Linked DNA regions of Homo sapiens. The protein of the gene in region 1 interacts with the protein of each later gene in a pairwise test. Each region holds a gene or a part of one and is shown in the gene's direction. Other genes may lie near its edges. The genes, in order: NKAP and FAM124A.

Region 1 (3,820 bases):
GATCCACCAGCCTCAGCCTCCCAAAGTGCTGGGCCCGGCCAATAATTTATCTTAACATTACAGATGAAACCAGGTGACAACAGGACTTCCTGCTATTTACAGCCTGGTAGGCGTTCTTCCCCCGATATCCATACATTCCAAGTACAGCTATAAATATGTTACCTTTTAAATTGTCTGTTACTTCAGGTGGGAAACCCTCTCAGTCTGACTCTGCATAGTTATAATACCTTTTCCCCTGATTAAGGAGGCAAAAACGATTTATACAAAAACTCATTGCAATTATATTTATTTTGGAAGGATTTTTAAAAACAAATGGAGTCACAAGCAGCTAAAATTTGAGAGAATGAGCCTTAGTCTTTGTTTTGTTTTGTTTTTTAGTTTATGAGGAATAACAAAAATTAAAACAGAAGAAACCATAGGCATAAAACAAAAGAAGAAACAAATTTTAGTGTCCTTCAAAGAATAGATACAAAATGCACTCCTTTTCCAAAAAGGAACTAAAAGGAAAACAGAGAGGGAACAAACCTTGTATCTCATTGAGTATAGTTTTTTTTTTTTTTTTTTTGGTTTTTTATTTTGAGATAAGAGTCTCACTCTATCACCCAGGCTGTCATGTGCAGTGGCGTGACCTTGGCTCACTGCAACCTCCACCTCCAGGGTTCAAGAGATTCTCCAGCCTCAGCCTTCTGAATAGCTGGGACTACAGGCACATGCCACCGTGTCCAGCTAATTTTTGTATTTTTTTTAGTAGAGACAGGGTTTTACCATGTTGGCCAGGCTGATCTTGAACTCCTGACCTCAGGTGATCCACCTGCCTCGGCCTCCCAAAGTGTTGGGATTACAGGCGTGAGCCACCACGCCCAGCCCCAAGTATATTTTTTGTTAAATGAAACTTTTTGACTAGGTGCAGTGGCTCATGCCTGTGATCCCAACGCTTTGGGAGGCTGAGGCAAGAGGATTGCTCGAGGCCAGGAGTTCAAGATCAGCCTGGACAACAAAGCAAGACCTCTTTTTTTTTTTTGAGACGGAGTCTCGCTCTGTCTCCCAGGTTAGAGTGCAGTGGTGCGATCTTGGCTCACTGAAACTTCCACCTCCTGGGTTTAAGCGATTCTCCTGCCTCAGCCTCCCTAGTAGCCAGGATTACAGGCATGCGCCACCACGCCTGGCTAATTTTTGTATTTTTACTAGAGACGGGGTTTCACCATGTTGGCCAGGCTGGTCTTGACCTCCTGATCTCAAGCAATCCGCCCGCCTCAGCCTCCCAAAGTGCTGGGATTACAGGCATGTGCCACCGCACCTGGCGGCAAGACCTCATCTCTACAAAAAAATAAAAAACTTTTATTTCGGGCCCGGTGCAGTGGCTCACGCCTGTAATCCCAGCAACTGAGGTGGATCTCCTGAGGTCAGGAGTTTGAGACCAGCCTGGCCAACACGATGAAACCCCATCTCTACTAAGAATACAAAAATTAGCCAGGCGTGATGGCGCATGCCTGTAATCCCGGCTACTAAGGAGGCTGAGGCAGGAGAATTACTTGAACCCAGGAGGCGGAGGTTGCAGTGAGCCAAGATCGTGCTACTGCACTCCAGCCTGGGCGACAGAGCGAGACTCCATCTAAAAAAATAAATAATAAAATAAAATAAAAACTTTTCTTTCATTTTCAGAACTTCAGTTGTTTTCTACGTCTAATGCATCATTTTTATTTTCTTCATTAATTCCTCGATTTCTGAAAACTGAAGGTTTGACCATATCAAAAGAGACTTCTCTTCACCTTTCATAAATCTGTAAACAAATGAAGTTACTTACAAATGTGAAGCTGTTTCTGTCACATATTACAGATGATGAAATGAGCAGTTAAGAGCTGTGTCATGCATTCAGCAGAATGGATGCACTTGACAGTCTCCCAGGCCATCATTTCTATAGTCTGTACCATTTGATAGTATCATCAGAACATCAGACCTTAAGTGATGAGTTTACATTTAAACCAAGTTTTTATCCATGTTTAAAATATAAAGGGAAAAAAGGCTTAACTAGACTCCTATTGAATTTGATTATATATTTAGGAAACAACTCAGCCATTGAGTTATAATTTACATGTCTTTATCTGCTAGGAGATTAAGTGAGAGAGAGAGAATTGGAGAATTGGGAGCTCCTGAAGTATGGGGACTTTCTCCAAAGAATCCTGAACCAGAGTAAGTGGTTAAAAAATATATTTTTAAAATGTTATAATATGTGTTTAAATCCTGAATCTATTGTGAAAATGTTTAAGTGAAGAACTTTAAATATATCTCACATTTTTCTTTCTTGTGATTTATGTTCTTCTACCCCTTAAGTTTTAAAAACATAGAACATATCTAAAGATTAAAACATGTTGCTAGTAGGTTTTAGCATAATCTAAAATAATTCCTGGAATATAATTTTCCTATTAATAGAAGGGTTCATTGTTAAATAATACACATTATTTTGAATTATTTTTTCTCAACTAAACTCAGTGGCAGATTGCATGCCAGATATTAACATTACAAAGAGATTTTTTTTTTTGAGATGGAGTCTTGCTCTGTCGCCCAGGCTGGAGTGCAATGGTGCGGTCTCAGCTCACTGCAACCTCCGCCTCCTGGGTTCAAGCGATTCTCCTGCCTCAGCCTCCCGAGTAGCTGGGATTACAGGTGCCTGCCACCATGCCCGGCTAATTTTTGTATTTTTAGTAGAGACGGCGGTTTCACCATGTTGGCCAGGCTGGTCTCGAGCTCCTGACCTCGTGATCCGCTTGCCTCAGCCTCCCAAAGTGCTGGGATTACAGGCGTGAGCCACTGCGCCCAGCCTACAAAGAGATTTTTTAAAACGAATATACCAGTATGGTTTTGTTAATATTCCTATATCCAATACTATCTGCAGACTTAATGCTTTTTCTTTTTGCTTATTTCTTTTCTCTTTGATGCTACTCATAAGTTTCTTCTTCCCTCTCTGTTTCTGTGCCAACTTTAGGTTGAGTTGAGACAATGTGCTTGACAGGTAAACCTGTAATTTGTGATTGGATAATAAAGCATTATTATCTGAAACTTGTTCTTACAGATACCTTTAGAAAATGCTTGAAGAGGCCAGGTGCGGTGGCTCACGCCTGTAATCACAGCACTTTGGGAGGCCAAGGCAGGTGGATTCCTTGAGCCCGGGAGTTCAAGACCAGCCTGGGCAAATAACAAGACTATTTAAAAGAAAAAAAAAAGAAAACACTTGAAGAACCTGAATGTATTGAATTAGAGTTGGAAGGAACCCTAAAAATAGTTTTCTTTCTTCTTTTTTTTTTTTTTTTTTTTGAGACAGAGTCTTACTCTGTCACTCAAGCTGGAGTGCAGTGGTGCGATCTTGGCTCACCATAACCTCCGCCTCCCAGGTTCAAGTGATTCTCCTGCCTCAGCCTCCCGAGTAGCTGGGATTACAGGTGCATGCCACCATGCCTGGCTAATTTTTGTATTTTTAGTAGAGATGGGGTTTCACCATGTTGGTCAGGCTGGTCTTGAACTCCTGACCTCATGATCCGCCCACCTCGGCCTCCCAAAGTGCTGGGATTACAGGCGTGAGCCACTGCACCCAGCCAAAATAATTTTCTAGATAATATTTAAATTACTCCAAGTATGATCTTCAGAGGAAAAGATTATATGATGTGGAAACTCCTTTTCTAAACTATTGTAGAATTTGAATAATACTCATTTTCAGAATTCTCTGCAACAGAACAACATCTCTTTAGACTGTAGTTTGTTAGGTTTTTGCTCTGAGGAGACAGAACAGTTGCTGCTTTACCATTTGTCTTTTACGTGCTTAAAA
Region 2 (3,820 bases), on another chromosome or scaffold:
GTGCAGGTTGTGCACTGCACAGTTCTCAGGGAGCATATCATGCAAGAGTATACGTAAATGTACTCCCATAGTGCTTGGGCATACATAATTAGTGCCAGCTTCTTTGTGTCCCCAGTGCCTGGTACAAACTGATTGCTTAACAGATGTGCAAATGAATGCATGAATAAGAGAGAAGACAGCAAGCTGGACTGTTTTCAAGTGAGACACTTAATAGGGTTGGGAAGAAAATTCAGACGGGTTTTGATCTGATTAAATTAAAACCATGTTATTGCAGCTGTACATGGTGAAATGGACTTGTAAGCCCACTTGGAATGTCTACCTACCATAAAAAAATTTTCATCCTGTGACTTGATCAAGGTTATGATTCTGAAAAGCACACCACATTGATAGAACACAATTGACCACATGATCACTGTATGCCTGACACCCCTAGTGGACACTGTGAGGCATGTGTTTTGTAAAGGCAGATCTAGATTCTAGGTGAATCTAGCCCCCTAAATCACAATTGGCCTAAAGATGTCTCAATTCCCTTAAATGAGACCTAAAACTTCTATAAATGCAAATAGAACCATCTTTTAAAAGAGCAAGCCTTTTATCAGGTATAGTTATATGATTTAGAAATATGCCAAGTGTGGCCAAAAAACTGTCACCCCATGGGAAACTGTTGCCAAGTTAAACAGTCAACTTCATGCTTGGAATTCAACAGTTTCAGGTGTTCCGCCAGAGATCACAGGGAGGGTAACCGACCCATTCAAGTTGTGTGGGCTTCTGAGTGGATGTGGCCCAGCAAGGGACACAAAAGGTAGCCTTTCATGGGCAGTCATGGTCTCACCCTGCTTTCCTTCCACCCTAACCTCAGCCCCAGTAAGCTCCAACAGCAAGAACACTGTGCTTGGCTCTGGGGGTCATCCTTCCCTGTGTCTCCAGCAGCAACATGATCTTGGCCAGGACCCCACAATAGGGGACACTGTGGGCAGGACTCATCAACAGCCAGGGCATGACCTGTCTATAGAGTAAGCCCCAGGGGGCAAGCACAGGTCTCTCTTGTCCTCCATCATTCGCCTTGTGCCTCACTCCCTGTGAGGCAGGTAGGAAGGAGCCCATGAGTGTGTGTTAACAAAATAAACAAATGAAATAAGCAAACCAGAGGAGTGCGTTTGTGTAGGGAACATGTATGGGGCAAGGCCCTGCAGCTATTTCAGGAAATACTAAATGGTGTCCACAAGATGCTATGCCATCTTTTCTAATGGGCCTGTTGTTCCTTCCAAGTCACTAGACTTGACTTTCTATTTGTCTGATACGTAAATATAAAGTCAAATGTTCCCTATACCAACCAACCTGATGAAATACAGGACCAAGGTTCTCCTCACCCTGTCCAGCTTAGAAACTATTCACGTAGCAACAGCCCTTTCCTCTTTGGCTGCTAAGGTGCTGGCATAGTAGTTTTTATAGGTAAACTTGGGATCAGAAAATCACAGGTCATGGAGTCAGTTCAGTTAGAATTTGACTTCTCTTCCTGTCAAGCCTGTACACGTCATCACTGGACACTTTAATGAAATAATCATAATTGTATTCATTCATCCATTCGTTTTTTGCGTGCCCCCAGGTGAGCTTTCCGTTGAAGAGGCGCAGGACCCTTTCCTGGTCAGCATCCACATAATCGCAGACCCAGGGGAGTCCCAGCCCCTGCAGGAGGCCATCGACAACGTCCTGGCGTGGATCCACCCCGACCTCCCGCTGTTCCGGGTGTCCGAGAGGCGGGCGTCCCGGCGGCGGCGGAAGCCCCCCAAGGGCGCTCAGCCAGCGCTGGCTGTGGTGCTGTTCCTGCAGGAGGAGTACGGCGAAGAGCAGATCCTGCAGCTGCACCGCACACTGCAGCAGCCGCCCTGGCGCCACCACCACACCGAGCAGGTGCACGGCCGGTTCCTGCCCTACCTGCCCTGCAGCCAGGACTTCTTCACGCTGGCCCCTGGGACGCCGCTTTGGGCCATCCGGCCCGTGCACTACGGCAAGGAAATCGTGCGCTTCACCGTCTACTGTCGCTACGACAACTATGCTGACAGCCTCAGGTTCTACCAGCTGATTCTCCGGAGGAGCCCCAGCCAGAAGAAAGCGGACTTCTGCATCTTCCCTATTTTTTCCAACCTGGATGTGGACATCCAGTTCTCCCTGAAAAGACTGCCCTGTGACCAGTGCCCGGTGCCCACCGACTCCTCCGTGCTGGAGTTCCGAGTGAGGGACATAGGCGAGCTCGTGCCTCTCCTGCCCAACCCTTGCAGCCCCATCAGCGAGGGGCGCTGGCAGACGGAGGACCATGATGGGAACAAGATCCTCCTACAGGTACTGGGGGGACGCCTGTCTGTCTGTTTAGGGGACCTGAGAAACCAGTTAGCTTTGCCTCAAACACTATAGTACCAGTCACAGAGCAATGATCAAGGAAGGAGAGATCAGTGACCCTCTGCCCAGCTCCTAGTCGAAGTCAAAGTGGCCATACAGGATCCCAACAAAAGAGGGGGCAAGAAAGACTCTTCCCATTGGTTCTCTTCATTTCACTTTCAGCAAACATGTTCCCAATTCTTCCAGCTGCCCCTTCTGTCCTCCCCTATTGGGCATCCACTAAACACCCATGACTCCTGGGGATTTCAAATGAGCTTATAAGCTAGGGAATTTGCTATTAAAGATTCCTGAATCTATGCCCATGTACTTAGAGAGTTTTTACCACTGGATTCTTCCCTCCCACAAAGGAACTTCAGGAAAGCCCATCTATCTGGAAATTTTAAAATATATATTGATGTTCATAGAGGAGATAGCTGTTCTCTTCCTTCAGGTGCCTCCCCCACCTTCTACTCTTGCATCCTTCTACTGCTGGGCAGCAGGTTGTTGAAATCCTGTGATCACTTGGAAAAGGATGTCCCGTTAAACATTTTAAGGAGTAAGTGATGCCTTGGGAGCTTCTGGTTTCACTAAGCTTGGAAGGGGTGAAGGAATTCATTTTAAGTAGGCTGCCCTAGTCCTTCCATGGTAAACTCTTTAGCTTCATCATCAGCTCCCTTTCTCCTCTCATCCTTCCAGGGGTTGTCCCAGACTCATTAGAGATAATTAGTTATACTCAATTCAAAATTCAGCATGTATATTACAGAACATCCTACATCTGGTCCTACCTGAGAAATGCTTTCCAGACCCAGGCTTTCTTGATTTTACAAGTAAATTAGTTCCAGGAGTATAGGGCCTTGTTTTTCTGAAAAGCCTCTACCTCTGACGTCTCAATTTTCACACTTGGCTACCCGAAAAGAGAAAGTTGATAGTGAATTGGGGGACATTGCCTTAAGAGGCAAAGATTGTGGTTACTTGAATCACAGGTAAAGTTTCATCGTTTTTGTTGGTTTTGGCTTTAAGCACCAGAACTATAATCCACATATCATGAAATGAAGTCAGAATTTGGCACATGTCAGATAACTGGTTCAGACTACAGCCAGGCCTCATTTCTCGTCAGAAAGGTCACCTTGAGATACTTACTATTTATAGGAACTAGATAATTTTGAAACTTCCTTTTGAACTGTGCAGATAAGGAACTAAGTAATGTTTTATTATTCAATATGCTAGCATTTGCTCTATAATCCCTTTTGAAATGTGAGAAAAATTGTCTCTGTGTTTGAAGAATGCCACATCTTTATGCAAAATATAATACAGTTGCACCAAGTAAAAGTTAATGAAATGCAAAGGATATTGTTTATACTAAAAGACCAAAAAGAATGTGACTGTTTCTGAGGTGACTTCTTCCTTTTTGCAGTAATTAGAGCACTTTTTTCTCCTGATCCTT

The links.
Region 2: the proteins of NKAP (region 1) and FAM124A interact in a two-hybrid assay, tested with the Homo sapiens proteins (one large-scale study listed by BioGRID and IntAct).

What each region holds. Positions count from the first base shown.
Region 1 is NC_000023.11:119,937,100-119,940,919, reverse strand, and holds part of NKAP (NF-kappa-B-activating protein), read left to right. Parts: intron 1-2,109; coding exon 2,110-2,190; intron 2,191-3,820. UniProt on the Homo sapiens protein: Acts as a transcriptional repressor. Plays a role as a transcriptional corepressor of the Notch-mediated signaling required for T-cell development. Also involved in the TNF and IL-1 induced NF-kappa-B activation.
Region 2 is NC_000013.11:51,249,862-51,253,681, forward strand, and holds part of FAM124A (protein FAM124A), read left to right. Parts: intron 1-1,606; coding exon 1,607-2,340; coding exon of another isoform or gene 2,341-2,412; exon of another isoform or gene 2,413-3,753; intron 3,754-3,820.